2 linked regions of the Homo sapiens genome follow. Each later gene encodes a partner of the first gene's protein in a complex. Links are inferred from orthologs where the notes say so. Each region holds a gene or a part of one and is shown in the gene's direction. Other genes may lie near its edges. The genes, in order: MYO3B and ESPN.

Region 1 (16,123 bases):
CAGCAACTCAGTCACCACTTTGTCATCTACTTGTGGAAATAGCACATCTACTCTACATTCAGTTCTTAAAATTGCTTCTAATGGTGCATTGTTGATTCCTCTAATGAAATCAGAGGAACTAGGATATTTTCATTCTTAACAACCCTTGTGAGGAAATCACCATATGGCTGTTTGCAAACTGTTTTGTTTTGTCAAGTTTGTTTTTAAATATCCAAAGTGCTTATGAATTTCACAAGTCTTGCATATAAAAGGGAGGTTGCTAAATCTTATCTATTCATCTAGCAAACATGTTTTGAAAACTATTGTCAAGAACTAGGAGATCAGCAGTGGATGGTAAATAGACAGCCACCATCCCTGCCTGCATGGAGAAATAGTCCAGGGTCGGGGGGGATTAGTAAAACAGGGATCCTGATAAAGAAGTCTTATTCCTGCTAATATCAGGGCTTACTGAGCAGGAGTTGTTGGGGCAGTGGTGCAGATGGTTGCCAAGGGAACCTTTCCCAGTTGAAAAGTAACAGGTGTGGGCCTGGGTGTGCAGACGTGCATATCGTCATGTTGCATATCGTCATGTTTAGCCTTTCTATCCTGTCTCAGAAAGAAAAGGAAGCTGGAGGCTTCCCCTTGAAGGGACTGGATAGGCAGTTAGAGAGTGCCAGAGGTACTTAGGAAAATTAAGAAGGCTAATTAATTGGTTTCCTGAGCCAGCATAGCATAGCGTCTCTGAAGCTGCAATGCAGATTGATGGGAGAGTTTCCTTGGGGACTGCATGTGCCTGGAACCTGGATGTTTGACATCTAAGTAAGAAAGAGAAAGGTCTTGGTTGTCTTTTACCTAGGAGAACCAGTGATTGAAAACCATTCGTTCATTATAAGAAATATTCTTAATATAGTCAATAGTTTTTATATATTTTGATCATTCTCTAGTCTAGGTTACATCTTTCCCCAAAAGTTATTCATAAGCCTTAAAAATATTTAAATCCTTTTGTCTAGCAAGTCTATACCCAGGACTTTAACTTAAAACCATTACGTATGTATATATGAATGCTAAGATGTTGATTGCAGTAGCTCATAAATAAGGAAAAATTGGAAACAACAAAATGCTTATGGGGCATCAGTTAACTAATTTGGTGTGCCCGTGTAAGGGAAAGAGGAATGGTCAGTAATACCTCTTGCAGACTAGCAGTTCTCATATGTCTGTACAAGCCCCAGCCCACCAAGAAATCTTAATGTGAGGGTGGGTGGAGGAGGATTGTAGCTTCGGAAGCAAGGTATAATTTTTAAAATGCCTCCTTGGTGATTCTGATATCCTGAGAGTGGAGATATCTCCTTTTAAGAATCAAGATTATAGTTAAATGATGTTAAAACCTACTAAAAAATGATGTAATATTTTTAAAAATACCAAATATCAAACAATAGGTAGTCAACACTGGTTAAAAAAAAATGCACACCCACCCATAGACACTCTTGCACCTACCCACATGCATTTTTTTTTTAAGTCTGAAGGAAAGACAACAAAATGTTGAAAGTGATTAGTTTTTGGGTAGGATTAGGGGTGATTTTATTTGATTTGTATCCTGTATTTTCCAACATCTCACCTACAAACATGTACTACTTTATAATCACAGAAAAAGACACAACACATTCTTGAATTTAAAAAGAATGTAAAAATTAAAATAGTAGCCAATATTTTCTGAAGAGTGTTAATTTTGACAGAAAAAAAAATTCCTGAATTGTTTATTATACTTGTATGGTCTCTAAGTTATCCATAGTTTGCCAAGCCTGTTGGCTTACGGTAGAACCAAACCCAGACATTACTTCCCCCTCATGGCAGCTACCCAAATTTCAGGACTAGTGTCTAAGAATGTGAAAACAAACATCTGAGTTCTCTTCCAAATCAACTTTACACTCTGACTGAATTTTTTTTTTTTTTTTTTTGAGACAGGGTCTCCCTGTCATCCAGGCTGGAGTGCAGTGGTGAGATCATAGCTCACTACAGCCTTCTGGGTTCAAGAGATTCTCCCGCTTTAGCCTCCTGAGTATCTGGGACTACAAGCATATGCCACCACATGAGCTAATTTTTAAATTTGTAGAGATTGGCAGGGTAGTTCTCCCTATGTTGCTTAGGCTGGTCTTGAACTCCTGACATTAAGCAATCCTCCTCTCTTGGCCTCCCAAGGTACTGGGATTACAGGCATAAGCCACCATGCCTGGCTTTTGGATTGAATTTCTGGAGAGTCAAATAGTTGTCTAAACATAGCCAGGGCCTTCTGGAACAGTCTCTGGTGACACATGCGTAAATGCTATGGGCAGGTGTGTATGTTACCACCTATGTGGAGAGCTGGTTTCTCCTATATTTTTCTCAGCACTTGGACAAGAATTTTCTAGAGGACTGGACTTTTCCATTTGTGGGTAGAAGTAAACGCTGGAGGGTAACGAGCTATAGTAGAAGATGACCAGAACAGGAGTCTGATAATGGGGTTCTAGACCTGGCAAAATGAAGGCAGGAGCGCCAGACCTTCTTGCATTCCAGGATTTCTTTAAGAATTGGATGAGATAACACTTGCAAAAGTGTCATGAAAGCTATAAAATGTTAACCCTGCAAAGAGTGTTATTACTTTTTAATAATAAGCCAGCCTGGATTTTTCATAATCTGAGAGTTAAGAACCCTACTGATTGGACAATACTACTGTGGCCAATTCTTGTGAAGAGGAGCAGCCTCTTTTGCTTTGTGGAGTCATTTTTTTTCTCAGTCATAATCATAGATGGCAGGACCAGGATTTGTGTCCACCTATCACTGGCCTTACCCTGCATGATCCTCCTTGCTCCCTAACCTCTGGCCATGCCTCAGATCTCTTGGTTCCAGGAATATTTGCTTGCCGCGGTGCTATCTCCACTTTGGGCCTTCACACGGTGCTTCCCTCTGCCGAAAACATTCCCCCGTCCCCTGTCCCTTCAGCTCACTTCCTCAGCTGGCTTTCTGAAGCAGTGTTTCTCAAAGGGTGGTCCAGCATCACCTGGGAACTTGTTAGAGATGCATATTCTGTGGCTCTTCTCCACCACCAGGGTCAGAAACTCTGGATGTGGAGTCCAGCAGTCTGTTTTACCAAGCCCTCCAGAAGATTCTGATGAATACAAAAGTTCGAGAACCACCCCCCTAGAGCAATGATTCACAAACTTTTTTGCCTCTTTGGGAAGCTTAAAAACTGCTGGTGCTCAGAGCCATACTCCAGAATTTCCAGGGAGAGGTGGGACCAGGAATCCATATTTGTAAATCTCTTCAGGTGATTCCAATGTGCAACCAAGTTGGAGAATCACCTCAGAGGCCTGATTTCCTTTGTCATGGGCTCCTATAGCACCTTGCACTTCCCTTCTGTAACACTCATGCTCTGAGCCCCATAGGGATAAGGAGGCTACTTTATGTCACCAGGACCTGCCACACCATAGGCACCATGGAATGTTTTTGTTTGTTTTTTGTAGAAACAGTATCTCACTCTGTTGTCCAGGCTGGAGTGCAGTGGCAAGATCATAGCTCACTGCATGCTCGAACTCCTGGACTCAAGCCATCCTTCCACTTCAGCCTCCCAAGTCGCTGGGACTACAGTTGCACACCATCATGCCTGGATAATTTTTTTAATCTTTTAGTTTTGTAGAGATGGGTTCTCACTATATTGCCCAGGCTGGTCTTGAACTCCTGGGCTCAAGCAATCCTCCCACCTTGGCCTCCCAAAGCCACTGGATGTTGACAGAATGAATCACACTGTGCTTTGATTACAGGGTATGTTGGAAGGATTGATTTGAAAATACTAATACCAAAAAGATTTCCACATGACATTTTCCAAAATATGATTAGGAAAGTAGTATGGAAGATCATAGTAGTTTCACCGTATTCAGGATGAAGGAAGATTGAGCTTTATGGAGAGAGAAGTATGGAAGTGCAGGAACAATCCCCAGGGATCTCTGTGTGTACCGTGTGTGTGTGTGTGTGTGTGTGTGTGTGTGTGATAAAGCAGATCACACACAGGTGATCTCTGTGTGTGCCCAGTGTGTGTGTGTGATAAAGCAGGCGAACTCCAGATCCACAAATTTTTAAAATCTGAAACTGGACACATTGTTTGCCCTGTTTTTCAGGGCAGACTTAATACCCAGAGATTCTCCTTTTACCATTAGGATTTATTTGTTTTTTAAGTATTAGCTGATGACTTTGGTTAAGTTCTTATTTGACTTAGAATGTCATTTGGAATTGAGGGATAAAACCCATGAAATGAAAATGTGGATATTAAAATGGAGCAGAAAATGGATTATTTGGTGCTGCTAAAAATTCATCTGTTTAGAGTAAAACTTTTTTTTTTTTTTTTTTTTTGAGACGGAGTCCTGCTCTGTCACCCAGGTTGGAGTGCAGTGGGCACCATCTCAGCTCACTGCAACCTCTACCTTCTGTGTTCAAGCGATTCTCCTGCCTCTGCCTCCTGAGTAGCTGGGCTTACAGGCGCCCGCCACCACGCCCAGCTAATTTTTGTATTTTTAGTAGAGATGGGGTTTCACCATATTGGTCAGGCTGGTCTCCAACTCCTGACCTTAGGCGATTCACTCACCTGGGCCTCCCAAAGTGCTGGGATTACAGGCATGAGCCACCGCGTCTGGCCTGTTTAGAGTATAACTTAGTAGGATGTTCTTTGGAAAAATTATCCAGAAGACACTCAAAAGTTAGGTATTTTCTTTTTTTCCTTCTTTGCAATTTGTCAGCCATCAAGTGTAGTGTCTGGCACTCCATAAATGGATGAAGAAAACTAAGAGGTTTACTTGTGGTAATTCATTTTACAGTGTTATTAAATGCTTTGCTAGTTTGAAATGTTTCTGCTATAATAAATAATTTAAGACTTAAAGTCCTTTCTTTTCAATGTAGTTCCTTCTTAAGGTGTTTTTACTTGAAGGGTGTGCGTGTTTGCCCGTGCACACATGTGGGCATGTATGCTTATGAATGAAAATGATCATGAAATTATTGCTCTTTTAGTTCTTTGGAAAAATAAATCTTATGCATATATTTCTTAGGTATTTTAATTGCCTTTGTTATGTAAAGAAATCCCATTCATTCATCCATCCAGTAGGTCATTTCTTTCAACATTATATAGCCACATGCCAGGCCCTATGTTAGGCATGGGAGATATAATGGTGGACCTGATAGGCATGGTTCCTGTCCTCCTGTTGCTGTGTAGTGGTTTTAGCACTTGCGAAAGTCATCTATGAGATTCTTTTGCTTCCGGGTTCTTACATTTTTATTGTTGAGGTGGGGTCTCACTTTGTCCCCCAGGTGAGAGTGCAGTGGTGTGATCATAGCTCACTGCAGACTTGAACTCCAGGGCCCAAATGATCCTCCCACCTCAGCCTCCCAAGTAGCTGGGACTACAGGCATGTGCCAACATGCCCTGCTAATTTATTTATTTTTTGTAGAGACAGAGTTTTGCTATGGTGCCCAGGCTGGTCACTTCTGCGTTCCTGAGTCATTCCTGACTTGATGTGTGTGCGTATATTTTATTCTTGACATTAATTAGCATTTTTCTGCTACTCTTGGATGAACTTTCTAAACACGCTACCTTCCAACCTTATCAGTACATTCAAACCAAGTGGACATCCCAGAATAAGGTGGTGATTCTATAGCAACACAAATTAAATGTCCATTCCCCAAAATGTCTCATTGGAGAGAACAAATAATACACCACATAATTAATAGATTTAAAATCTTCATGGTACTTTAGCTTCATTAAAGATAGCAGCTCAAGCAAATTTAAAATTAATAGATTCTATCTAGTTCGCCTATTGTTATTTTTGAAGTCTGTTACAGAAGAGAAATTATGCAAATGGCTGTCAGGCTATTGCTGCTGCACTCACACTAGGAATGCATTATAATTTCTTTCTTAGAGGAAACACTTATTTGGAGCAGACCAGGCCCTCGGTTCGTTCGCAAGAGGTTGTCCCTTCCTTCAGATGGTCCATTTTGAGCTAATAAGTACTATCAGGGTTGAGGTGGAGAGGCGGGGCTGTGGGGAAGGAAATTAGGATAAATTACTGGGGCCCAGTGGCTGAAAGGGCCTCGGGCAAATCCCTGGTGAAGACAGTCTAGCCAGTCCTCCTCTGCTGGGGCATCTGGTATTTTTTTTCCCTTGGGCCTGGGCAGGCTGTCGGTCACCTTCCAGACTGTATAGCCTTTAACTCCTTGTTGCAATGGAATCCTGCTGGCCTTCTGATTTGCCTTTTCCTGCAAAAATCTGCCAAGACACTCTTTCTCAAAGAAAATTTCCTATGTTACTCTACTGTTTAAAAGCCTGGTGTGGCACCCTCTCACCTTTGAGGAAAAATTCCAGCCCCCCAGGCTGCCTGAAAGCTCTGCCTTCAACTGACTCTTGTATACAAATTCAACTTCATCTCTTGATTATTTTTATAATTCTTCTACTGGAACCAGGCTGATCTTTTTAACAACCTGTTAATTTTAATAACCTGTTCATTTATTTATTAATTTATTCTGCAAGCAGATGGGATGATAAGTTCAGTCCAACTGTAGGAATCCATGATTCTACTAGCTATAATATGAGCAATTATTATGTGCAAATACTGTAGGAAATATAGGAAGATAGAACACATTATCCCCATTCTTAAGATTCTTATGACAGTAAATGGAAACACAAAGGCCATTATTGACTAGCGGGAGTAAGATCGCTGTCCTTTAAATCACCTTCTTCATATTTGCATTCTCTGTGTGCTGTTTCTTGGCTCTGGGTTTCTCTCCTGCCTCATCTACACTAATCCTTTTCACTTCTTCATTCAAAACTGTACCTAGATTTATCTGCTCCAGGAAGCATTCCCACTCAAGTCTTGGTCCTGGGTTGAACTGACTCCTCCTCAGAATTGATGGATATAGCTTATCCAGTGTTATTGCACAGTCTTCAACTATTTCACATGGGCCTATGTGTCATGTTAGCTGGCCAGAAAAGAAGCTTTCTGGGGACCCTACCCTCCTGTTTCTCACTTCCCCTCTCTCCCTTTTTTTTTTTTTTTTTTTTTTTTGAGATGGAGTCTTACTTTGTTGCCCAGCCTGGAGTGCAGTGGCAGAATCTCTACTCACTGCAACCTCCGTTTCCCAGGTTCAAACAATTCTCCTGCCTCAGCATCCCTGGTAGCTGGGATTACAGGCGCACACCACCATACCCTGCTAATTTTTGTATTTTTAGTAGAGATGGGGTTTCCCCATGTTGGCCAGGCTGGTCTCGAACTCCTGACCTCAGGTGATCCACGAGCCTTGGCCTCCCAAAGTACTGGGATTACAGGCGTGATCCACCATGCCCAGCACCACCCCCCCACCCCCTGCCTCCTCTTAACCTACTGTTCTGTATATAGCCCAGGGCATGCTACTGAATGAATAGTCACTGTTGAATAGTCACTGTTTCATTGCTTGGTAATTCAGATCAGAAACTCATGGTGTTTCCCCTGGGTTTATCTGCAGTTCAGAAAAGTGACCCTGACTACATGCTTTGATTATGCCCTTTGCTCACAAAAAGATGATTAGTTTTGATTGTGCAGCATTTGGAATGAAGGAATTTAATCTGGAATGAAGGAACTTTAAAAGGTTGGGGGAATATCACATTGGAACTGTTAAATGACATGCAAACAGGATCTGTGAGAATGGTTTTGATTCTGCTCTGTGTCCTGGTAGGAGACACTAAATAGATCAGGCTCACTACCAATTAGCATCATCTTAATCTTGCCTAATAGTGAAGCAAAGTCACCAAGGATTTGGTGGATTTATCAGCTCCTCCCACAATAGTCATCTGAGGCTAACACCTCTTGGAACCTAGATCGAAAGTCCTTTGGTAATGATGTGTCATACATTCTAGTCATCAAAGACACCATTTTCTGGGCCTGAAGTGTTCTGCTGGTTTTTGGAGGAATGAGAATCCAATCTCTCATAAGCCGGATTCAGAAAATAGGTCATCGATGTGAGTTGCAGTTATTTTCCTTCCAGCTTTCTTCTGTGCTTGCTTTAGATTGTTTTTCTGCAAAGGGCAGATGCAGCTGCCCTGGCTGGTGGGCAGTGGAGGGGGATGACAGCCACTCTGGCTTTGGGCCTCTGTCTGACATCACCCAGATTCCTGGGTCCTCTCAGTTAGCATTTGCCTTTTGTCTGGGTGGTTAAATTTCTCTTGAAGGAGTAGGATAAACACCCTCTTGAGTATTGCTTTTTACACAGACACACACCACACACACACACACACACACACACACATACACACAGCATAGTTCATAGTCACTTGATTTGCCACCTGCAGTTTATAATAGAATGGACCTGTGGGATTATAAACCACTTTATTTCTGCACAGAATTTCTCAGCTTGAGGCCAAATTGAAGGGCATTAGTCATCAGTAATTTGCAGATGTTTTTAATGTTTTTCACCCAAGAGAGGTTTCAGGCAGCTAAAGCTAAGATAAATTTCCTCATGCTTTGGTGGGGAAATGAAAAATCTGATCATTTAGTTAATCATTTGTAAGAGCTGTGGGTATGTATTGTTCCTTAGTGACTGCAATATCATGACAGATTTGTTAATTTGGTAACATGACAATGTAAACAATAGTAGATAAATTCCATTATGCCATGATTCTTTTCTTCCTCTCAGTAATTTTGTATATTCAAGGTTTAAAATCCATAGAACATTAGAGATGGAACTTAGAGATCAACCTAGAGATCATTGGATTCCTCTACCAAGCTCTGTCAAATGCCAGTCCTGAGTGTCTCCCCTGGAGCATCAGGATAAATAGCTAATGCATGGGGGGCTTAATAGGTGCAGCCAACCCACCATAGCACATGTTTATCTGTGTAACAAACCTGCACGTCCTGCACATGTAACCTGGAACTTAAAATAAAATAAAATTTAAAGAAAGGAAAAGAGTACATAATCAGTGGAACCATAAAGGTCAGTTCTAGTGGGAAAATTAGGAAAGGCCTCCTAGAAGAGAAGACATTTGAGCTATACTTGAACAGGCCCTATCTAGCAGCATCCAGATAGGTGGTTTGTGAAGAAGCCAGTTCCTACTCTTACGTCTTTACCATGGTTATGGTTTGAATGTCCCCTCCAAAGATCATGTTGAAATTTAATTGCCATTGTGAGAAGAAATGGGACCTTTAAGAGGTGACTAGGTCATGAGGGCTCTGCCCTTATGAATGGATTAATGCTGTTATTGTGGGAGACGGCTCCTAGTAAAAGGATAGGTTCAGTCTCCTTTTTCTCTCTCTTGAGCTCTCACTCTCTTGCCCTGTCTCACTATGTGAGACCTTCCACCATGTTATGATGCAGCAAGAAGGCCCTCACCAGATGTGGCCCCTTGATCTTGGACTTCCCAGCCTCCAGAACCATGAGCCAAATAAACTTCTATTGTTTATAAATGATGCAGTCTGTGGTATTCTGTTACAGCAGCAGAAAATGGACTAACACAACTATTATGCACTTGCTTATGTATTGGTTTGGAATTATTCTCTAATTTACTCACGCTTGTATGGTATGTGTTTCCTTATTCTGTGTATCTCTGGGTGTTATATTTAATATTTGTACAGATTTCCTCTGACATTTCACAGTTCAGGTTTCCGATTTCTTCTTTCTAAAATCTATTCTCTAGATTTGAAAGCATTCTATGATTTGTGATTCATATATACCATACTATAACATCTAGAAAAAATATTCTGAATAGCATACTGAGCAATGGAAATCTTCATCATGAATTTTCTAATGAGTATAAAATGTTGCTGGGCAAGTTTCTATTTAAATCATGCTCGCTAGGCTTGACTAACTGCAGACATTCACAGGGTGCATGCTGCAGAGTGCTTTACTTTCAACAAGGTAAGGCTGTACCTCCGTTAGGGACTAATTCAGGGTATTCAACAAGGGATCAGACTAGACCAATTTGGGGTTGTTAAGGAACTAAAACTAGCTCACGAGAAACTCAAATCAGCTCATGAAAAGAGGGGCTGCTTGGAAGAATGCAGTAGGAAATTTCATGGGTTACAAGGACAGACAGCAAAGCTTAGCAGGCCTCAGAGGGCCAAGATGTAGAATTCACAGTGAACCCACTCACTAATCCTCTTTGTCTCACTCTCTCAAGCATGGTCCTTTCAGTTTCTTATTTCTCTGTTTTCTTTTTCTTCTCAGGATGAGCCTCTGTTTCATATGGTTTCTGCTATCCTCTGACTTCAGCACACATTTGGGTCATAATAGTCTCCTCTGTAGAGATCTCTTATATGTTTTTTTAAAAAATATTTATTTTAAAAAGTAGAATAACATATGCACTAGCAAAAAACATGACTAAAAATGTGTAATAATTTTAAAAAGCATATAAATTTCTCTCTTTTCCAAACTCTCTGATTTTTACCACCTCTCCCTAAAGTTTAAGAGTTTCCTGTGTAGCCTTCTGGAAAAATGTATATAAGGATATACACATACATAGAGACATACACACAAATATACACATAAAATGACTAGAAATGCAAATATTCTTTGTATTTACACAAAAATTGTCCTCTCTATACACTATTCAACACTTTTAAAACAAATCTTAATTGTATATTTGGCATTCTTTCCATATTAATTGGCAGAAAATTTACCTTTTTTCTTTTTGGTGGTTACCTGTGGCTACATTGTATTTAATTTTATGTAACTATTATGATTTATTAGATAATCTCTCCATGATGATGGGCCTCTAGGTTGTATCTGGTTTTCTACTGAAAATAATACTATAGTGAACAATCTTGTATGTCTATCTACTTCAAGTTTAATAGAGTTTTAGCTCTTACATCTGTTTAATGATTAAAGTTAATTTTTATATGTGGTGTAAGGATAAAGATTCTTTTTTTCTTTTTGCATATTGCTCTACAATTGTTTTAGCACTGTTGAAAAGTTTTCCTTTCTAGTATGTAGAAATATAATTGAATTTAAAATATTGACCTTGTTTGTATCCTGTAATTCTGATAAACTCACTAATTAGTTCTAGTAATGTTTTTATAAATTCCATCAGTTTTTTAAATAGATAATCATGTAATCTTCAAATTAAGCCCATTTTACTTCTTCCCTTCTAATCTGGATTTTTAAATTTTCTTTTTCTTGACTTATTATTCTGGCTTCACCACAGTATTCAATATAAATGATGAGAGCAGACATCCTTGGCTTCTGATCTTAAGGTGAAAGCATTCGGTTTTTCACCATTAAGTGTGGTGTTAACTTCAGGTTTTTCCTAGATTCCTGTATCAGATGAAGAAGTTCCTTTCACTTTCTAGTCTGTTGAGAGATTTTTGTTGTTGTTTTTAAATTTTGAATAAATGTTGAATTTTTTGTGAATGCTTTTTCTGCATCGATCGAGATGATGGTTTTTCTTTTATGTTCTGTTAATATAAATCTAAGTGTGCTTTTTTTGATTATATATGTAAAGTAAATGCCTACCAGTAGAATTACAGAGACAAAGGGAATGGGCATTTGGTAGATTTTGACTAATAATTCCTCACAAAGATTGTTTACGCTTTCGCTCATGTTGTCTCAGAGTGCTTATTTCTCTTAACACTATTATCAAACTTCTAAAAATCTTGACAGTGTGATAGGAGACAAATGGTATCTCATTAGTTTGATTTGCCGTTTAAAATTTACTAGTGAGATTTAGCATCTTTTATACATTTAAATTTTTTGAGTCTTTTTCTTTTTTATTGTATATACTCTTGATAGAAAATTAGCTCCTGATACAAACCTTCTTTTCTATTTATTTTTTGGAAAAATGTTAGTACTTACAACAATTCTTTTGGTTGTAGAGACCTTTTTACTTGTATGCAATTATGTTTATCAATTTTTTTCTTAGGGCTTGTGAGTTTTCTATTCTACTTGAAAATATTTCTTGCCTACACCAAGACTATAATGTATTTAGCTATATTTTTTTAAAAAATTTTGAGCCACCATACTCTATTTTGGAGAAAGGAATGAGGTAGCAATCTGGCTTAACTTTTTTTCTGAACAGCCAGCAAGTTAAGCCAGCATAATTTATTGAACAGTATTATTTAGTCCATCTTTTGCCTATTGATTTGTAATGTGATTTTTATCATAAACCCTATTTCTTTGTGTATTTGAGTCTACTTTTGGTTTCTAGTCTAACGATCTGACTACTTATTTCTACCCCTGTGGCATAATGTTTTAATTACTCTAGCAGTATAACATGTTTTAGTGTCTGGTCAAATTATGTTCACTAATTATTCTTTTTTAAAATTTTCATGTTATGTGTTTTTCTTTTTCTGTTTCTTTTTTTTTTTTTTTGAGACTGAGTTTCACTCCATTGCCCAAGGTGGAGTGCAGTGGCGTGATCTCAGCTGTCTGCAACCTACGCCTCCCAGGTTTATGTTATTCTCCTGCCTCAGCCTCCTGAGTAGCTGGGATTACAGGCACCTGCACCACACCCGGCTAAGTTTTCTGTTTTTAGTAGAGACGAGGTTTCACCATGTTGGCCTGGCTGGTCAAACTCCTGACCTCAAGTGATCTGTCTGCCTTGGCCTCCCAAAGTGCTGGGATTACAGGTGTGAGCCACTGTGACCAGCCCTCATGTGTTTAATTTTCTAATGAAGTTTAATATCATTTTGTCAAATTCTTAAAAAAAAACAAAGCGGCTGGGCGCTGTGGCTCATGCCTGTAATCTAGGACTTTGGGAGGCCAAGGCGGGTGGATTGCCTGAGCTCAGGAGTTCAAGACCAGCCTGGGCAACACTGTGAAACCCCGTCTCTACTAAAATACAAAAAAATTAGCTGGGCGTGGTGGCATGCACCTGTAATCCCAGTTACTTGGGAGGCTCAGGCAAGAAAATTGCTTGAACCTGGGAGGCAGAGGTTGCAGTGAGCTGAGATCACACCATTGCACTCCAGCCTGGGCCACAGAGCAAGACTCTGTCTCAAAAAAAAACAATTATTTACTTTCAGACTAAATTTAGGAAGAATTGACATCTTCACAGTAAGGTTTTCTATCCAAGCATAAGGTATATGGTTTTGCATTTTTTTGGTCTCTTTTCATTTAATCCATTGATTTTAAGATTTTACTTTTATACATTCTGCTCTGTTCTCGTTAGGTTTAGCTTTGGGCATTTTACTCTCTTTAATTCCTATTAAAATGCTATTTTCTTTCTGGCTGATTACTTTTAACATATAGAAAAATATATTTTGAAATTGCTTGATTTCTAGATGCTAATTTTATACTCAGCTCCTCAATGAATCAACTTAATTTTTTTCATTGTTAAACTTTGATTTTCCAGGAATAAATCATTCCACTATTTATTTTATATTCACCATCTTCCCAGTGTTTATTTCTATGTTTTTTTGTCTAATCACAGTGGCTAATACTTCAAAAACAATGCAAAATTTTATAGTGTTTGTGAGAGATACTTGTCTTTTTTCTTGATTTTTATTAGCAATGGTTGTAGAAATCCATTATTAACTAAGATGTTGACTTTTGGTTTGAGAGATATGTTTCTGTGCTGTTTAAATGCTAGAAAGGAATTAACCCATTTGAATTTTTTAATGTTCTAAAAATTAGATATTAAAACTTACCAGATTCATTTTGGATTTCCATTTTTAATGGTGTTTCATACTTTGATATATTAATGGGAAAATCATAGTAATATATTCCCTAATGTTGCATTATCTTTGCTAAATTCTAATAGCTGATTTTTTTTCTGTGGTTTTATGTTTGTTTATTTTTAATTTTTAGTTTTTGTGGGTACATAATAGATGTATATATTTCTGGGGTACATGAGATTTTGATACAGGCATATAATGCATAAGAATCACATCAGGTTAAATGGGGTATCCATCACCTCAAGTATTTATCATTTCTTTGTATTACAATCTAATTATACTTTTAGTTATTTTTAAATTTACAATAAATTAGTGTTGATTGTAGTCATCCCTTTGTGCTATCAAATACTAGATCATATTCATTCTATTTTTTTGTACCCATTAACCATCCCTACTCCCCATCACCACTACCCTTCCCAGCCTCTGGTAACTATCCTTCTACTCTGTCTCCATGAGTTCAATTGTTTTAATATTTAGCTTTCACAAGTAAGTGAGAACATGCAAAGTTTGTCTTTTTGTGCCTGGCTTATTTCACCTAACATAATTACCTCCAGTTTCATCCATGTTGTTGCAAATGACAGGATCTCATTCTTTTTATGGCTGAATAATATTCCATTGTATATATAAACCTGATTTTATTTTTCCATTTATCTGCTGATGAACACTTAGGTTGCTTGCAAATCTTGGCTATTGTGAATAGTGCTACAATAAACATGGGAGTGCAGATAGTTCTTCAATATACTGATAACATTTCCTTTGGGGTGTACCTAGCAGTGGGATTGCTGAATCATATGGTAGTTTTATTTTTAGTTTTTTGAAGAACCTCCATACTGTTCTCCATAGTGATTGTGTTAATTTATATTCCCACCAACAGTGTACAAGAGTCTACTTTTCTCCACATTCTCACCAGCCATTTGTTATTGCTTAGTTTTTTTGGTTAAAAGCCATTTTAACTGGGGTGAGATGATATCTGATTGTAATTTTGATTTACATTTCTCTGATTATTGATTTTGAGCACCTTTTCATAAACCTATTTGCCATTTTTGAGAAATATCTGTTTAGGTCATTTGTTCATTTTAAAATCAGATTATTAGATTTTTCTTATAGAGTTGTTTGATCTCCTTATATATTCTCATTATTAATAACTTGTCAGATGGATAGTTTGCAAATATTTTCTCTCATTCTGTGGGTTGTCTCCTCACTTTGTTTATTGTTTCCTTTGCTGTTCAGAAGTTTTAAACTTGATGTAATCCCATTTGTCCATGTTTGCTGTGGCTGCCTGTGCCTGTAGGGTATCACTCAAGAAATCATTGCCCAGACCAACGTCCTGGAGAGTTTCTCCATTGTTTTCTTTGAGTAGTTTCATAGTTTGAGGTCTTAGACTTAAGTCTTTAATCCATTTAGATTTTATTTCATTCATTTGCATATGGATAACCAATTTTCCCAGCACCATTTATTGAGGAGCCTGTCCTTTCCTCAATGTATGTTTGTGGCAGCTTTGTCAAATAAGAGTTCACTGTGAATGCATTGATTTGTTTCTGTGTTCTCTATTCTGTCCTATTGGTCTATATAACTGTTTTTATGCCAGTGCCATGCTGTTTTGGTTACTATAGCTCTGTAGTATAATTTGAAGTTAGGTAAAGTGATTCTTCTAGTTTTGTTTGCTTTGCTCAGGATAGCTTTGGCTATTCTGGGTCTTTTGTGGCTCCATATACATTTTATGATGTTTTTTCTATTTATGTGAGGAATGACATTGGTATTTTGATAGGGAATGCATTGAATCTGTAGATTGCTTTGGGTAGTATGGACGTTTTAACAATATTGCTTCTTTCAAACTATGAACATAGAATATCTTTCCCTTTTCATGTGTGTCCTGTTCAATTTCTTTCATCAGTGTTTTATAGTTTTCGTTGTAGAGATCTTTCATTTTTTTGGGTTAATTCCTAGGTATTTTATTTGTAGCTATTGCAAATGGGATTACTTTCTTGATTTCTTTTTCCAGTTGTTTGCTATTGGAATATAGAAATGCTACCGATTTTTGTATGTTGATTTTGTATCCTGAAACTTTACTGAATTTATCAGTTCTAGTAGTTTTTTAATAGTGTTTTGGTTTTTCCAAATATAAGATCATACCATCTACAAACAAGGCTAATTTGACTTCTTCCTTTCCAATTTGGATGCCTTTTATTTCTCTCTCTTGTCTGATTGCTTTAGCAAGGACTTCCAGGACTATGCTGAGTAACAGTGGTGAAAGTGGGCATCCTTGTCATATTCCAGATATTAGTGGAAAGGCTTTCAATGTTTCCCCATTCAGTATGTGGGTCTGTCATATGCAACTTTTATTGTATTGGGGTATGTTCCTTCTATACCCAGTTTTTTTTAGGGTTTTTATCATGAAGTGATGTTGAGTTTTATCAAATGCTTTTTCAGCATGAACTGAAATGATCATATGATTTTTGTCCTTCATTCTGTTGATATGATGTATCACATTG
Region 2 (15,903 bases), on another chromosome or scaffold:
TCCTGAGTTCCCAGCAGTGAGGTCTGCGGGAGAAGGGCAGTGGTCTGTGCGGTGGGAGGGAGGGAGGCAGAGGGACAGACCAACCAAGAGCAGAAGGGGTGTAGACGTGGCACATTTGGAGTCAGAAGCAGGCTCTGCATGAGACGCAGCCTCAAATTGGGGCTCTGCCTCTTTCTCACAGAGTGATCTTAGCTCTCTGTGCCTCAGTTTCCTCATCTGTACCAGGAGAACAATGCTAACACCTGTCCTGTGGGGTTACAAGGACCAGCTGAGAGAACGTGTGTGTTGTACTCATCACAGTGCTTGAGACAGAGTAATCATTCAGTAAATGGTGGCTGCTATCACTATTATTATTTACTATTATTACTTTTATTAATTCCTCTCTCCAGTGATGGGAATTTTTTCTTATTTATTTATTTATTTATTTATTTATTTATTTATTTTAGAGGCAGGATCTTGCTCTGACACCCGGGCTGGAGTACAGTGGTATGATCATAGTTCCCTGCAGCCTCAACTTCCTGGACTCAAGTGATCCTACCTCCTCAGCCTCCTGAGCGGCTGGGACTACAGGTGTGCACCAACACACCTGGCTCATTTTTGTATTGTTTGTAGAGAATGGCGGTCTCTCTATGTTGCCCAGGCTGGTCTCGAACTCCTAGGCTCAGGCAGTCCTCCTGCTTTGGCCTCCGAAGGTGCTTGGATTCCAGGTGTGTGATGAGAATTTCATTTTGGTCCTTATGCTCATCCATATCTTTGTAATACTCCCCAGTGACTGTGAGAGTGCCCATTGTTCTTCTTGTCCTCAGGCCAAGGTGGAGGGGGATGTTGAGCCGGGATCCCCTCCCCCGCAGCCCAACAGCATATCTGCCCCATGTTCTGGGGTATTCCAAGGGGATGTTGAGCCAGGATCCCCTCCCCCTCAGCCCATCAGCATATCTGTCCCATGTTCTGGGGTATTCCAAGCTGGAGGCTCTGACTCCATAATGGGGCGTGTGAGTGCAGATGGTGGAATACTAACGAGAATGGTGATGAGCTCCAGCACTTACTGAGGGCTCATTCCGTGCCAGGAACTTGGGCTGGGAATGCCAGCCAGCGGCCCTGCAGGAGGCTGTGGGTACCACTGCCCCCTGCTGCTCAGATCCTGCTTGGTGCCAGCTTCTCAGACCTTCTCCGGCTGGCTGGGCACCCCTGGGTCATGGATCTCTGCCAAGTGGGGGGTGCTGGGAGAGCAGAGCTCACCGCAGGTCTGGCCCCCCCACCAGCTGTGCAGACCGCCGTGGGCCTCTACAGATAGAACCCAGTGGGCCCCCACCAGCCCCTGATCCCCAAGACCCCGGCACTCACTGTGCCTTGGTTACGGGGTGAATAATTTAGGCCGCTGAGTGTCAGTCATGAAATATTCAACAGCCTGTTCCTGACGCAGCAGCATGTGAGTGTGCGTGGGGGTGACGCTGGCGCTGGGGTGTGGAGGCTGGCAGCCACGAGCCAGCATGTTTCTGAAGATAGATACGTAGCTGTGTCTTCTGTCTCCCTCATCTATGTCGACGGGACCCCCTCTGGATCACCAGGCATGGTGCCTGCTCCCCGCACCATCGTGAAGTGCCGGGCTCAGCATCAGCCCCAGCAAATGGCAGCCCTGTGTCTAGGGAGTGGGGAGGGAGGAGAAATCAGTGAGTGGAGGTCCATGGGGGCTGCAGACAGCCTTGGGGTCTCAGGAGTCAGGGAAGTAGACAGAGAACCAGGGCTTTAGGGACAGGGAGATGCCAGCTGGGAGGGTCTCAGGATGTGTGTGAGAGGGAGGGAGAGGGCACACGTGACAGGGGTCAGAAGAGGGGCTAAGTCGTGTTGGGAACAAGAGGGTGGGTGGGCAAAGGGGGGTAGCCTGGTGCCCATTGATGGGCAGGCAACAAGCGGATGGGCAGTTGGATGGGTGAGCGAGGGATGAATGCGGGGTGGAGCATGTGGTTGATCTAGGGGGTGAAACACTGGGGGAGGTAGATGGGCAGGATGTGAAGTCCTGTGAAGAATTGGCCTCCTAAGCACAAAAGGTGAATTGGAACCCAATAGGTCGCGGCCCCCAACCTGGAGCTTCTCCTGGGTCTGGGGATAGATTGTGGCTCCACCTAGTGTCCTTCGGTGGTAACTGCACCCTGGCTGTTCACCTGGACACACCAGGCCAGCCATAGACCCTCCTGGTGGCTGGTCCTCCCAGGCACAAGGAAGGATCCTAAAGTTCAGCAATGGCTGTGCGCCAGGCACCAGGCCTGTGCTCAGGGCTCTGCAAGCACTTCTCAGGCACTCTGCACAAGGTCAGGATGACAACTGTTGTCCCCATTTCATGGATGGGTTTGGGAAGACAAAGAGACAAGAAGCAAGACTGTGGCACAGCTCAAAGGCCCCCCTCTGGGCTGGGAGAGCAAGGATAAGGGACAGTGACAGCCGAAAGCTAGGCCCTAGGAGAAGCCCCTGAGACACATTCCAGCTCTTCAGTCCCTGCATGCCCATATTGCCGGCCAGGCCCTGCATGCACAGACAGATGGGTGTTCAAATGCCACTTACCAGCTGTGTGACCGAGGAGAGAGCTGAGTCTGTGCCTCTGTTGTGGGACTATGGGTGATGGCACAGAGTCCCAGCCCCACCTGTGAGCCTCCTCAGCTGCAGCTGCACCATTGACTGAATTCTGATTCTGGCAGGTCCCCTGCTAGGTGCCTTACCGGTGTAATCTCAGTTGATGGTCATAGTAATAGTTGATGGCCGGGTGCGGTGGCTCACACCTGTAATCCCAGCACTTTGGGAAGCTGAAACAGGCGGATCACTTGAGCTCAGGAGTCCGAGACTAGCCTGGCCAAGATGGCAAAACTGGGTTTCTACTAAAAATACAAAAATTAGCCAGGCGTGGTGGCACATGCCTGTAGTCCCAGCTGCTTGGGAGGCTGAGGCAGGAGAATGGCTTGAACCCAGGAGGCAGAGGTTGCAGTGAGCTGAGATTGCGCCATTGCATTCCAGCCTGGATGACAGAGCAAGACTCCGTCTCAAAAATAAAAATAAAAAAGAAGAACCTGCTTGCTAGTGCCGTAGCCCAGAGCTAGCACAGCAGAAGCATTCAGTACATAGTGGACATCCTGAGGGCTGCCAGATTAACAAAAACAGCAACAACCAAACCCAGGACGTTTGACTAGCTTTGAATCTCAGATAAACAAGCTGTACTTTAGTATAAGTATGTCCCATGCAATATTTGGGATATAGAATACTAAAGCATTATCCGTTTATCAGAAATTCAGATTGAATTGTGTGAACTGCCTTTTGTCTGGCAACCCTTACCACCCTGCCCTCTGGGAACTCAGTCTTCTGGGGGAGGCAAAGGTCAAAATCAGTTATGGTCAACCAAGCATGACAGGTCATGCTCAAGTGGCCCTGGGCAGTGTGGGGCGGAGGCCAGCAAGGGGGAAATAAATCAGGGTGGCCCTCATGGAGGAGGGATGGGTACTGAGTCTTCAAGAGGGAGGAGAAGGACATTCCAGATGGAGGGGGCACACAATGAAAGGGATAGAGGTCAGACACAGCAGGTGTGGGGATTCATGGTGACAGTGGGTGAGAGGGGAGAAGAGGCCAGCTCACCACATCTTTGTAGACCTCGGTTAAAAAGTGGGACTGAGCCTGGGTGCGGTGGCTCTGTAATCCCAGCACTTTGGGAGGCTGAGATGGGCGGATCACGAGGTCAGGAGTTCGAGACCAGCCTGGTCAACATGGTGAAACCCTGTCCCTACTAAAAATACAAAAAATTAGCGGGGCGTGGTGGCACATGCCTGTAATCCCAGCTACTCAGGAGGCTGAGGCAGAAGAATCGCTTGAACCCGGGAGGCAGAGGTTGCAGTGAGCCAAGATCGAGCCACTGCACTCCAGCCTGGGCGACAGAGCTAGACTTCTTCTCAAAAAAAAAAGTAGGACTGAGGGCAGGGCAGTGCTGGGTGGGACGCCCTCAGGGACCTCTGAGGGAGGGTGGCTCAGGACTCAGTCCAGGGGGAGCCCCCCGGGCAGCAGCGGGCCGGTGACAGGGCCCTTTCCCACCCACTCTCCCTGCCGTCCAGGGCTCCCCGGGACGGGATGGGGGCGGGTAAGAAGGCCTCGGAGGGGGTGAGGCGCTGAAAGCCCACGGTGGGCGCTGTGTCTCCGCAGGGGAGTGAATGCCCAAACCAAGAACGGTGCCACGCCCCTGTACCTGGCGTGCCAGGAGGGCCACCTGGAGGTGACCCAGTACCTGGTGCAGGAATGCGGCGCAGACCCGCACGCGCGCGCCCACGACGGCATGACCCCGCTGCACGCCGCGGCGCAGATGGGCCACAGCCCAGTCATCGTGTGGTTGGTGAGCTCCGGGCCCGGGCGGGGAGCAGGGGAGGCGGGGCGGAGCCGGCAGGGCGGGGAGTGGAGGGAGCGGGGCCATCAGGGGTGGGGCGGGGGGGCGGGGGCGGGCCACGGAGGTACAGGGGGCGGGCCTACAGGGGCCTGGCGCCCAGCCCCCGCCCCCCTCTCCCCGCCCGTCCCGCCCAGGTGAGCTGCACCGACGTGAGCCTGTCCGAGCAGGACAAAGACGGCGCCACCGCCATGCACTTCGCGGCGAGCCGCGGCCACACCAAGGTGCTCAGCTGGCTGCTGCTGCACGGCGGGGAGATCTCGGCTGACCTGTGGGGCGGGACCCCGCTGCACGACGCCGCCGAGAACGGGGAGCTAGAGGTCAGCGCGGGCCCGGGGTGGGGGCGCGCGCCCTCTGCTGGCACCGCGCTTTCAGCACGGCCCTGCCCGGGCGCGGGGGTCCCAGCTCGCGGCCGCGGCCGGGTCCTCACTGCGTGCCCCCGCAGTGCTGCCAGATCCTGGTAGTGAACGGCGCGGAGCTGGACGTCCGCGACCGCGACGGGTACACGGCCGCCGACCTGTCGGACTTCAACGGCCACAGCCACTGCACCCGCTACCTGCGCACGGTGGAGAACCTGGTACGATCCCTGAGCTGCTCCTGTCGCATTCTTTCTTCTCGCCCCTCCACCCCAGTGGTGGGTGTCGTCACCCCTTTTACCAAGGAGGAAGCTGAGGTTCAGGGACGTGAAGCCCGCTACCCCACACGACCTCTCAGCCCAGAACCACTGCCTACTGGGGACTGAGGGAGTAGAGGCACAAAGGTCAACGGAAAGAGGACAGGGAAGACCAGAGTCACCCCAAGGGGTAAGGCTGGAGAAATCACAAGACAGGACCCACTGGGAATAGGCAGGCTCATTCACCTACCCATAGACATTAGCTTGGGTATAACTCACAGCCACCCTCTGCAGAAAAGAGTGTTTAAGTGTCCCGTTCCACATATGGATAAAGTGAGTCTGCGGGGCACCAAGATGGCATCACCAGTAACTGTTAGAGTGGAGAACCTACCTTGATGGCCTGGCCAGGAGGCACCTCTCAGCCCCTGCACCATACATTTGCTGACTTCATGGCTGGGTCATAACTGGAAACCCACGCTACTCTTTTTAAATTATGTTATTATGGTGAGACAGCCATGAAGTGACCCAATGGGACTTGAACTCAGCTGTGGATGTCTCCAAGTGCAGGGCTCTGCACCATCTGGTACAATGCCTGCTATGAGGCAATAGGCAGGGAAGAGAGTGGGCCTCGCAGTCAACCCGAAAAGGATGCGGACCAACTCCATGGGGCAGCCTGGCCATGGAGGGGCTGTGCAATGAGGCCCGGAGGGAAGAAGGCAGATGGTCTGTGCCCTGAGCACCGTCTGTCCATCTGCCCTCCCCCCCCCAGCACAGGGGGATGGTCCTGGCTCTGGGGGCTGCAGAACACAGCAAGGCCCAGAGGCCAGAGGCTGCAGGGGGGCCTGAGGATGAACTTCCCCCCGCGAAAGAGTCTCTGGAAGAGAATGAATGGCCCAGCAGGTAGTGAGCACTCTGTCACTAGGGTATATAAGCTGGGATGGACACTGGGAAGGGCATTTCTGCATCAATGGTGGGTCCCCTTCAGTTAAGAGTGTCTGTGACTCTGTTGAGGGACCGTGGGGGGTGGCACCAGAGCCCAGGGCACCTGAGGGCCTCTCTGGATGCAGCTGCTAGCGGTCATAGGACAGCAAACACTATTCATTGGATTCTGACTTAGGCAGGCACCCTGCCGAGTGCCTTAAAGGTGTAATCTCCGTTACTCTTCACAGTACATTAAAAAAATAGTTGGCCGGGTGCAGTGGCTCATGCCTGTAATCCCAGCACTTTGGGAGGCAAAGGCAGGCAGATCACGAGGTCAGTAGATCGAGACCATCCTGGCCAACATGGTGAAATCCCATCTCTACTAAAAATACAAAAAAAAATTTAGCCAGGTATGGTAGCACACGCCTGTAGTCCCAGCTACTCGGGAGGCTGAGGCAGGAAAATCGCTTGAACCCAGGAGACGGAGGTTGCAGTAAGCCAAGATCGCGCCACTGCACTCCAGCCTGGTGACAGAGCAAGACTCCTTCTAAAAAAAAAAAAAAAAGGCTGGGCACGGTGGCTCACGCCTGTAATCCTAGCACTTTGGGAGGCTGAGGCGGGCAGATCACAAGGTCAAGAGATCGAGACCATTCTGGCCAACATGGTGAAACCCCGTTTCTATTAAAAATATAAAAATTAGCTGGGCATGGTGGTGGGTGCCTGTTGTCCCAGCTACTTGGGAGGCTGAGGCAGGAGAATCGCTTGAACCCGGGAGGCGGAGGTTGCAGTGAGCCGAGATCACGCCACTGCACTCCAGCCTGGGTGACAGAGCAAGACGCTGTCTCAAAAAAAAAAAAAAAAAAAAAGGTTGAGAGGCCATGTGGGGTGGCTCATGCCTGCACTTTGGGAAGCTGAGGCGGCGGGTGGATCACCTGAAGTCAGGGTTCGAGACCAGCCTGGTCAACATGATGAAACCCCATCTCTACTAAAAATACAAAAATTAGCTGAGTGTGGTGGCGGGCGCCTGTAATTCCAACTACTTGGGAGGCTGAGGCAGGAGAATTGCTCGAACCCGGGAGATGGAGGCTGCAGTGAGCCAAGACCACGCCACTGCACTCCAGCCTGGGCGACAAGAATGAAACTCTGTCTAAAAAAAAAAAAAAAAAGTTGACAATATGGCATTTACTGGGTGCCATGTCCTGGAGCTCAGCAGAGCAAGTAGTGCTGTTATCCCCATTTGCAGATAAAGAAAGTTAGGCACAAAAAGCATAGGTGACTCTCCCGAAATAGCTAGTAAGTCAGGGAGGGGAAGTCTGAAGCCACTGTCCCAGACTGCAGAGCTGGGTGGCTCAGGCCAGGTGCAGTACACCTGCTGTGGCCCAGCCTCTTATCTGCTGCCTACAGGGGTCAGGGCTTGGTGCCCTCAGCACCCACTGCTGTTGGCCAGGTAAAGAGCACCTTCGGGTGCTGCCCACGCCACCTCCTATGGCTCCCCTGATTCCTGCGGTAGGCAGCAGGGCCTGGTCCCCTGGAATGGGTGGAGTATGTGTGCCCTGGTTCCCTCACCCAAGCAGGCCCAGCTGCGGCAGGGACAGATCCAAGCCACAGAAGACGCTGGCCCAGAAAAGGCAAACACTCCCACAGAGCCCCTAATTACGGGGCCAATGAGCGCGGCCGCTGAGCCGTTACCTGGTGCCAGGCCTGCCTCTCTCTCCCAGGGGGCCTGTGACACTTCTTAGGCAGGGAGGGGGCATGGGGCAAGGAGGAGCAGGCCTGGGCAGGAGGCAGCGGAGCAAGCGGGCTTGCCGGCAGCAGGGGCAGCATGGCAATGTAAGCAGGGCCCCCACCACAGCCCCGTCTGCACCGGGAGGGGACAGGCCTGTGGTCAGACGCACAGACCGGGCAGGGCGAGGGGATGGCAGGCCTGGCAGCCTGAGTTCTGGCTGCCCATCACTGCAGCTGGCCATCCAGGCCCCACCCTTACCCCGAGGGCCCCATCAGGAGACAGGCCGGGCTGGTGTTGGGAGTCTGCCCCAGGCCCCAGGTCCAGCAAGGAGAGCCGGCTTGCCAGCCAGGTAACTAGGGATGGGCCTGTGCTGTGCGCCTCCCCATGGAGCCTCTGCCGATCCGTGAGGGAGAAGGCCGATCTCCTGGCATTTCTCCCCTTGGGGTGCAGCTCAAGGGCCCCCTCCTTGTCGATCTCTCCACCCTCCTAATCAGGGAGGAGCCAGGGGAGGGAGTTTCCCAGGAACCTGGGTCCTGCTGCCTGGCGGGGCTGGGCTTGAATCTTAACCTGGAGGAACCTGAGAGACCGTCTAGTGATGGGGAAGAGACCCCAGAGAGCGGTGTGGCTTGGCCAAGATCCCACAGCGAAGGCATGACTGAGTAGGACCCTGGCCTGGAGAGCAACGCATCTTGGGGTATGGTTGTCTTCATGGCCTCCCTGCCTCCCCTTCAGAGCGTGGAGCACCGCGTGCTTTCCCGGGATCCATCCGCAGAGCTGGAGGCTAAGCAGCCGGATTCAGGCATGTCCTCACCCAATACCACGGTGTCGGTCCAGCCGCTGAACTTTGACCTCAGCTCGCCTACCAGCACCCTCTCCAACTACGACTCCTGCTCCTCCAGCCACTCCAGCATCAAGGGCCAGCACCCTCCATGTGGTGAGTGTGCCCAGGAGGAAGACGGGGAGGGAGAGCAGACTGAAGCCAGACTGCTGGGCTGTGAGGATTGGCCTTGGGCCGCCCTGCCACAGCCAATATCGGACACTACCCTCATCACTTGCTCTTAAACATGGGGAGGCGACACCCCTTCTGGTGAGAGACAGATGTCACTCATACTTGTGTGTGCTTATCACAAACATACATGTACATCCACATGTACTCTCCCCACCCACAAAGTCCACGTGTGTCGCCCACCATTCATTATTCTTAGCTACTCACATACAAAAGCACACACTTGTACATGTGTACATACAGCATACAGATATGAACACACAGAGCCATGCGAATATCTGCACACACCCACCCTACACACAAGCAAGCACACAGTGCTCTATTTCCATACTACAGATATGCACGCACACACACACACATACACACCATGTCCACAGAGCAATGCACACACATTCATCAGTACAAAGAAGCATGTGCACAAATGCGTACCCCCTCAAACATACACAAATGCACGATCGCCTCGGCAGACTGCAGGCTTGTGTGTACACACACCCTGACCGTGCCCTGAGCATGGGCGTCCGTCCACTTGCAATGCCTGCTTCACGCCGCCAGATGGTGGCCTCCAGACCTGGCAGGGGTGCCCTGCAAAGATTGGATGTGGCCATCCGTACTCCCAAGGAGTAGACCCTCCCCTTCCAGGTGACCCTGCCCTCTAGACACACCAAAGCCTCCAGTGCTTCCCCTCCAAACCGGAGTGCCTGGTCTTCCCCCAGTAAGTGCTGGGCTGGGGCAGGGTAGGGCCAGGGAGGGGAAGCCCAGCACCGCCAGGGGCCACAGCAGGTGTACCAAGTGGTGCCCGGAGCCCACCTTGCCCCTCGGCAAGTTGTTTCCAGGTGGTGGAGAGTCTCAGTCTTGGGGGACAGCCTGTCTGCATGCTCCCAAATCTGGCCCTTCCTTCTGCCTCCCCAGGGCTTTCCAGCGCTAGAGCTGCAGACATACAGAGCTACATGGACATGCTGAACCCGGAGCTGGGCCTGCCTCGGGGCACGATTGGGAAGCCCACACCCCCACCACCCCCACCCAGCTTCCCCCCGCCACCCCCGCCCCCAGGCACCCAACTGCCCCCACCCCCACCTGGCTACCCAGCTCCCAAGCCTCCTGTAGGACCACAGGCAGCTGACATCTACATGCAGACCAAGAACAAACTCCGCCACGTGGAGACAGAGGCCCTCAAGAAGGAGGTAGTGAGCCCTCACCCCCTGCCTGCCTCCCAGCAGGGGGACTGGGCTGATGGGGGCCAGTGAGGCCAAAGGCCTGGCCTCACTAGTGGGCATAGGGTGGGGATCCCTGGGTCCATGGCATGTTCAAGAGTCAAAGCTCCTGGCGAGTCCCACAAGGGGTCAGGGCTGGACACTGGACTGGGAGGAGAGTAAGAGCAGGTCATTGCCCTCCATGGGAGCTGGGGGGTGAAGGACGCAGGTCCAGACAGCTGTGCCTCACCAGGAACTGGGCCTGTGCCACCTCTTGCACAGAGTGGCCGGGTTGTCATGGAGTTGACAGAGAATGCATGGAGACTGCCCCTCCCCAAGCATGCCCCCCCACCCCCACAGCCCCAGGCTCAGTCGGAGAGTGTCACCCAAGGGAGGTGGCTGCCAGGTGGAAGGTGCCAGTGGCATGGCTGTGGAGGTGAGGGCTGGAAGGAGGGTGGGGGGAAGGTGAGCAGGCACTAGCAGGGCTGGGTGGAAGTGAAGCTGTGGCTGGTTCCAGTTTAGGGCTTGAGCTCCTGGGGGAAAGGGCCAGGCCTGAGCTGGGAGCCCTGGAAGGAAGCGAGCCTGTGTGGAGAGGATGAGGCCAGGGTGGGCAGGTGGAGTGTGAGGTGCCTAGGGATGTCTGGGGCCTGCAGGCCCCTGGCTGAGGCTCTGGAGCAGGGGTTGGGGCAGAGGTCTGGTCTGAGCAATTCCGGGTATCCCGGGCAGGGTGCCCTGGGGAACACTGGCGTTCTGGCCATAGGAACAGAGCAAGGATGGTCTAAGAGGTGAGGGGACAGCCTGAGGTCACAGGTGGCCAGATGTGGTGTGGCAGCCCCCTGGGGTCCTGCTGGAGCCTGGGACCTTGCAGTTCTCAAGCCCAAGGCAAAGCCACCCCAGGGCCAATTCATAAAAGGTGACTCGGGTCACAAGGCCACTGGGCAAGGGAGGCATGGGAGGGACACCGAACCTGCAGGCCAGCTCCAGTAGCTGCCCTCTTCATGCCACCTTAGACCAAGCTCCCACAGTGGCTTCCCCTTTCATCTCTGGGAGGCAGAGGGGGCCCTGGAATCGCTGAGTTCCCAACGCAGACTGTTGGCCCCGCCCAAATCCACAGGACAGGTGGCCCAGCCAGTGCCCCGTCTCCACCGTTGAGCCCAAGTGCCAGGTCTGCGTGGTCCCCTCCTGGCTGTGTGAGCCCCCTCCCGGCTGTGTGCGTCCCTCCGGGCTGTGTGCGCCCCTCCCGGCTGTGTGCGCCCCTCCCCACTGTGTGCGCCCCTCCCGGCTATGTGCGTCCATCTCGGCCGTGTGCGTGCTGGGCCGCAGGCGCCAGGGCCGGGGCCCGGACGCTCCACAAAGGGCTCTTTGTGTCGCCGCGGCGCCCCCCGCGCGGGTGCCTGACCGGGGGCGGGAGCAGGGTCGTGGCGTCCGAACCTCCGGGCTGCAGGGGGCGCGGAGCGGGCGGGCTGGCCCAGAAAACAAATCCTGCGGTGTCGCATTTCCTGCAACGTGAGCCAGGTCGGGCGGGGTGAAGGGTCTGAGGCCACCGCAGGGACGCATGGGCTGGAGAGTGGGGCAGAGGACAGCCCCCACCCGGTCACTCAGTCTTTGGCCCGGCCGCCTCACTCTCCCTCACTGAGCTGGGCCTAGTTGGGGGCAGCTGCGATGGGGTGGGAAGCCACGCTGTCACCCGACCCCGCCTTACGGCCCCTGAAATCCGAGGCTTGAGCGCGGGTGTCGGTGTCGCTTTCGTGGATGGCGATGGTTTCCAGATGCAGGAGGGGAAGGGTGGGGACGCGACCCGGAGCCGGGGGCCAAATATGAGAGGCCTCCTCTGCCCACAGTCAGCCCTCTCCCCTCTCGGGCGGGGATGAAGGTGGGGGCTCAGCTCCCAGCTTAGGGAGAGGCGCAGGGGGCGGGGTCACATCTGGCCGGGGACGGGTGCAGAGCCGCGGCCAGGTGTGGCAAAGTAGTTGGCGCCCCCTGTGGCATCCGCGACGGCTGGGGGGGTTCAGCCTGGGATTGGCGGGCCCCGGGTGATGTCAGGCCGTCGGAGCCCATAGGCTGGCTGTGCGCGGGTGGCTGTAACCTGAGAGGAAGTATCAGGTAACGCAGGTGTCGGGTCCTGCCGCCCCCACAGCCAGGTGCACAGCGGGGGCCACCAGCACCGTGGCAGGTAGGAGCAGCCCCCGGACGGGCAACCGGGGTCCGTGGCAAGCCGGAGCCTCCGAGAGCACAGGCTCTGGAGGGGGCTCCCTCCGGCCCCGGACCCCCGAAAGACAGGGCTCCGCGGAGCCCTGGGGACCCGCAGTCCTTCTGACAGCCGAGAGCGGAGTGCGGCCGAGGGCCTAGTGAGGGCTAAGCTGGGAGGTGCCCCTTCGCCAGCTCCCCCTGGCGTCGGGGCTGGGCCACCCCGCCCCTGGGCCCGCCTCTTCTGGCCTCAGTGGGGGCCCCTGTGCCCCTTGGCCGGTGCCCAGAACCCCTCCCTGTAAGGCGGGCGGAGCCTGCCCTTCCACCGAGGCCCCCATGACCCTCGCCCGCTGCCCACTGTGAGAACCAGGGGGTCTAGGAAGTCAGCTGCTGCACCCCTCGACGGCCGCTGGCCGCGAGTCCCCAGGAGGTGAAGAGCTGGGTGGGGAGGCGTGGGGGGCGCCTACCGGGCAGGTGCCCGAGCCCCACCGGTCACTGTCTTCCCGCAGCTGAGCTCCTGTGACGGCCACGACGGGCTGCGGAGGCAGGACTCCAGCCGCAAGCCCCGCGCCTTCAGCAAGCAGCCCAGCACGGGGGACTACTACCGGCAGCTGGGCCGCTGCCCCGGCGAGACGCTGGCCGCACGCCCGGGCATGGCGCACAGCGAGGAGGTGCGTGCCCGCCAGCCCGCGCGCGCCGGCTGCCCGCGCCTCGGCCCTGCCGCCCGCGGCTCACTCGAAGGCCCCTCCGCTCCCCCGCAGGCGGCGCTGCTTCCTGGGAACCATGTTCCTAACGGCTGCGCCGCGGACCCCAAGGCGTCCAGGGAGCTGCCACCGCCGCCCCCACCGCCGCCGCCGCCCCTGCCGGAGGCCGCGAGTTCGCCACCGCCGGCCCCGCCTCTGCCCCTCGAGAGCGCTGGCCCTGGCTGCGGGCAGCGCCGCTCCTCCTCGTCCACCGGCAGTGAGTAGGGGCAGGTTGAGGGGCGTGGGGCGGCGCTAGCCCTGAAAGGGGAGGGAAATCTAGACACCGCCCCCTCCCCAGCTGTCACTGCCCGGGTCCTTCCTCTTCTACATGGTCTTCCGGCCACCCCTACCCCATTGAGTACTTGACCCTAAGAGAGGGCTCTGGGTTGCTTGAGGTCCTGCCAAAGCACGACCGGGCTGCACGGCCTGGGGCAAGTCCCTTCCCCAATCTGGGCCTGCCTCCCACCCCCTAGCTGTGTGGCCTGGGCAAGTCCCCTCCCCTCTCTGGGCCTCCTCCCACCAGCTAGAAAGGGCCTCCCAGCTCTGGCGCTGGTGTTTCCCATGAGCTGGTGCTGGTGTTTCTGATGAGCTGGTACTGGAGGGACACTCGAAGTAGAACCAGCTTCAGAGAGGCCCCGCAGCTAGCCACCCTTCCCCCTGCCCGTCTATCCTGAGCCTCTCTTCCTCTCTCCACGTCTTTCTCTTGTCCTTCCAAGCAGCACAGACCTGAAGTCTTCTTAGATATGCCAGGAACTCTTCCTAGCCAGTTTCTGCCAGGGGCCCTGGGCCAGCCAAGGCGTGGCTATGGGGGCAAAGCTGTGACCCACCGTGTTTCCCCCTCCCTCCCCGGTGACTTCCCTAGGCAACCTTTTTTAAGAGCTAGACTGGTGCAGGATTCCTGGGCTGCTTTTCTGTAGGGTGGGACAGTGTCCCCCTGCCAGGACACCTAGAAGGCCCAGGACAGAGTGCCTAGATGTGGTGCTCCCATCCCAGCCTGGCTGGGGTGTCTTCCTCACCCAGCCACTCAGGGCAGAGATCATGCTTAGTGGCACCCCTCAAAGCTTCATCTCCCTGACTAGAAGTGCAGAGCAGAGCTAGTCCCCCTACGGTTCCTATGGAGCCCCAGCCCCTGCAGACCAGAGCCCATGTAAGCAAGTCCAGCACCTGCCGAACCTCCTTCTTCCCTCCACAGCCTGCAGCAGGGCTGAAGCTAAGGGCAGAGAAAAACATACTCTGGGCTTCCCGAGACACCCTCACCCAGCACAGCCAGGGCTGGGTGCCCTACCCCAACCCAGTGCCAAGGTGGAGGCCCTTGCTAGGGGCTAGAGCCAGTGGTGGCCCTGCCCAGCCCTCAGGGGCACCAGCCAAGCCAGGAACTCGATGGACCACCCTCATGGGGCCCCAGAGCAGCCTGAGCCAGGGTCAGATGGGCAGAAAAGCTCCTCCTCTCTTCTCCACTTCCCCCCCGCCCGCTCTCCCTGGCCCGCTCCCTGTCCCCTGCTGTCCCAGTCTCATCCTGCCCCCCCTCCCTCCTAACTCCGCTGTCACTTCTCTCCTCTTGGTCCCTAGAAGTGAGAGTCCTGAGGCACAGGAAGAGTGAGTAGCTGCGTGCGCGGCTCCTGGCTGAGGCTGAGGCGCGGGGTGGGGGGAAGAGGCAGGAAAAGCAAGGCAGAAGGGGCCCAGACTTGAGGAAAGGGCAGGGGCAGGGGCTGGCAGGCGAGAGAACCTCGAAGAATGGGTGGGGCCTTGCACCTCATACCTACCCTCATACCCACATATGCACCCAAGCATTCTGCACCTGGCTGATGGTTTTGCCTAAATAAATGAGCCAGCCACACCGATTTTCCCTTTCTCCTACTCTTCTCCCCCACCACCCCCACCCGCTGTGACTGCATTCTGGGATCCCCAGCCTGGGAATCCAAGAGCTGTCGGCCCATTTTATTCCTCCCTCCCAGACCTGACCCCTTCATCGGGGCTCAAGAGACCTCTCTCTCCAAATCTCCATTTGCCTCCTCTGGCTAAGCTGGAAAATGCACACTCTGCCCTGGGTGTTTCCATATTATCCGCCTGCCCTTCCTCCTGGGTGCCTCCCGTAGCCTTAGTAAGGGCTCTGCTTTCCTGGGCCCCTAGAGCTGAGCCATGCTTTGCCATAAAGGTGCTCCCGGCTTGCAACCAATGTGTCTGCTTGTGCATCTGTCTGTGGGTGTGGTGGGGAGGGAGGGGACCAGGTGGGTACTGGCACTCTGGGGTCCGGACTTTATGTCCATGGAGGCCCCAATTGACTCAGTTCAAGGGTCACTGAGGCTTTGCTGATGTAGGGAGAGGGCCAGAGGGAGGCTCCACCCCAGCCGGGCTGAGCCAGGGAACCTGGGACAAAGGTCAGGTGGCTGATTCCAGGTAGTGTTTTGGAGCTGGGCAGTCAGTGGCTGGGCGGGGACATATGCCCAAGAGCCACCATGAACTCCCAGGGGCCTCCAGGCAGGGGCCCTCCATCCCGTGAGTAGGGTGGGGAAGATGGTGGGGTTGCCACAGTCAGGGAACCAAGGGCCCGCCTCTGGGGGCCCTGAAACCTGCCTGCAGGACCTGGGATCTGGAGAGCTGCCCGCTGGCCCGGAGGATGGGCACCCATCCAATCTTGGCTTAGGAAAGGGGCTGCAGAGGGGCGGGTGAGGGGTGGCGGGGATGCAGCCCCACCCTGGCCAGTGCCTCATCTCCTGCCTCCGCATAGGCACCAAGTCTTTCAACATGATGTCCCCGACGGGCGACAACTCGGAGCTACTGGCTGAGATTAAGGCAGGCAAGAGCCTGAAGCCGACGCCCCAGAGCAAGGGGCTGACCACAGTGTTCTCAGGCATCGGGCAGCCGGCCTTCCAGGTAGGCGGGCCCAGCAGGAGCCTGCGACCCGGCTTCCCTGGCCCTAGGCCACCGGGCGCTCAGCCCCACCGCTTCTCCCTGCAGCCCGATTCGCCGCTGCCTTCTGTGTCACCTGCACTGTCACCAGTCCGGAGCCCCACACCGCCAGCTGCGGGGTTTCAGCCGCTGCTCAATGGAAGCTTGGTTCCCGTGCCGCCCACTACTCCTGCGCCGGGAGTGCAGCTGGACGTGG

Evidence for each region.
Region 2: the proteins of MYO3B (region 1) and ESPN are in contact, whole or in part, in a crystal structure (PDB 5ET1), measured with the Mus musculus proteins. The link is inferred for Homo sapiens from one-to-one orthologs. Residues at the interface, in XP_017174528.1 of Mus musculus: Arg1223, Arg1224, Gln1226, Gln1227, Pro1228, Lys1229, Met1230, Leu1231, Ser1232, Ser1233, Asp1236, Thr1237, Met1238, Tyr1239, Tyr1240, Asn1241, Gln1242, Leu1243; in NP_997570.1 of Mus musculus: Leu35, Ala37, His41, Arg45, Ala67, Asn69, Ala71, His75, Asp76, Ala79, Thr80, Asp101, Ser103, Leu110, Arg113, Phe114, Thr135, Thr137, Ala139, His143, Tyr144, Ala147, Thr169, Asn171, Tyr177, Leu178, Gln181, Ala203, Asp205, Met207.

Annotation. Positions count from the first base shown.
Region 1 is NC_000002.12:170,170,303-170,186,425, forward strand, and holds the start of MYO3B (myosin-IIIb), read left to right. Parts: upstream 1-7,844; 5' UTR 7,845-7,985; coding exon 7,986-7,987; intron 7,988-9,827; exon of another isoform or gene 9,828-9,850; coding exon of another isoform or gene 9,851-9,879; intron 9,880-16,123.
Region 2 is NC_000001.11:6,436,078-6,451,980, forward strand, and holds part of ESPN (espin), read left to right. Parts: intron 1-616; exon of another isoform or gene 617-707; intron 708-4,176; coding exon 4,177-4,363; intron 4,364-4,548; coding exon 4,549-4,731; intron 4,732-4,856; coding exon 4,857-4,988; intron 4,989-8,403; coding exon 8,404-8,605; intron 8,606-9,586; coding exon 9,587-9,858; intron 9,859-10,227; coding exon of another isoform or gene 10,228-10,347; exon of another isoform or gene 10,348-10,971; intron 10,972-11,950; exon of another isoform or gene 11,951-12,040; intron 12,041-12,392; exon of another isoform or gene 12,393-12,484; intron 12,485-12,563; coding exon 12,564-13,014; intron 13,015-14,366; coding exon of another isoform or gene 14,367-14,393; intron 14,394-15,214; exon of another isoform or gene 15,215-15,253; coding exon of another isoform or gene 15,254-15,293; intron 15,294-15,525; coding exon 15,526-15,671; intron 15,672-15,755; coding exon 15,756-15,903. UniProt on the Homo sapiens protein: Multifunctional actin-bundling protein. Plays a major role in regulating the organization, dimension, dynamics and signaling capacities of the actin filament-rich microvilli in the mechanosensory and chemosensory cells.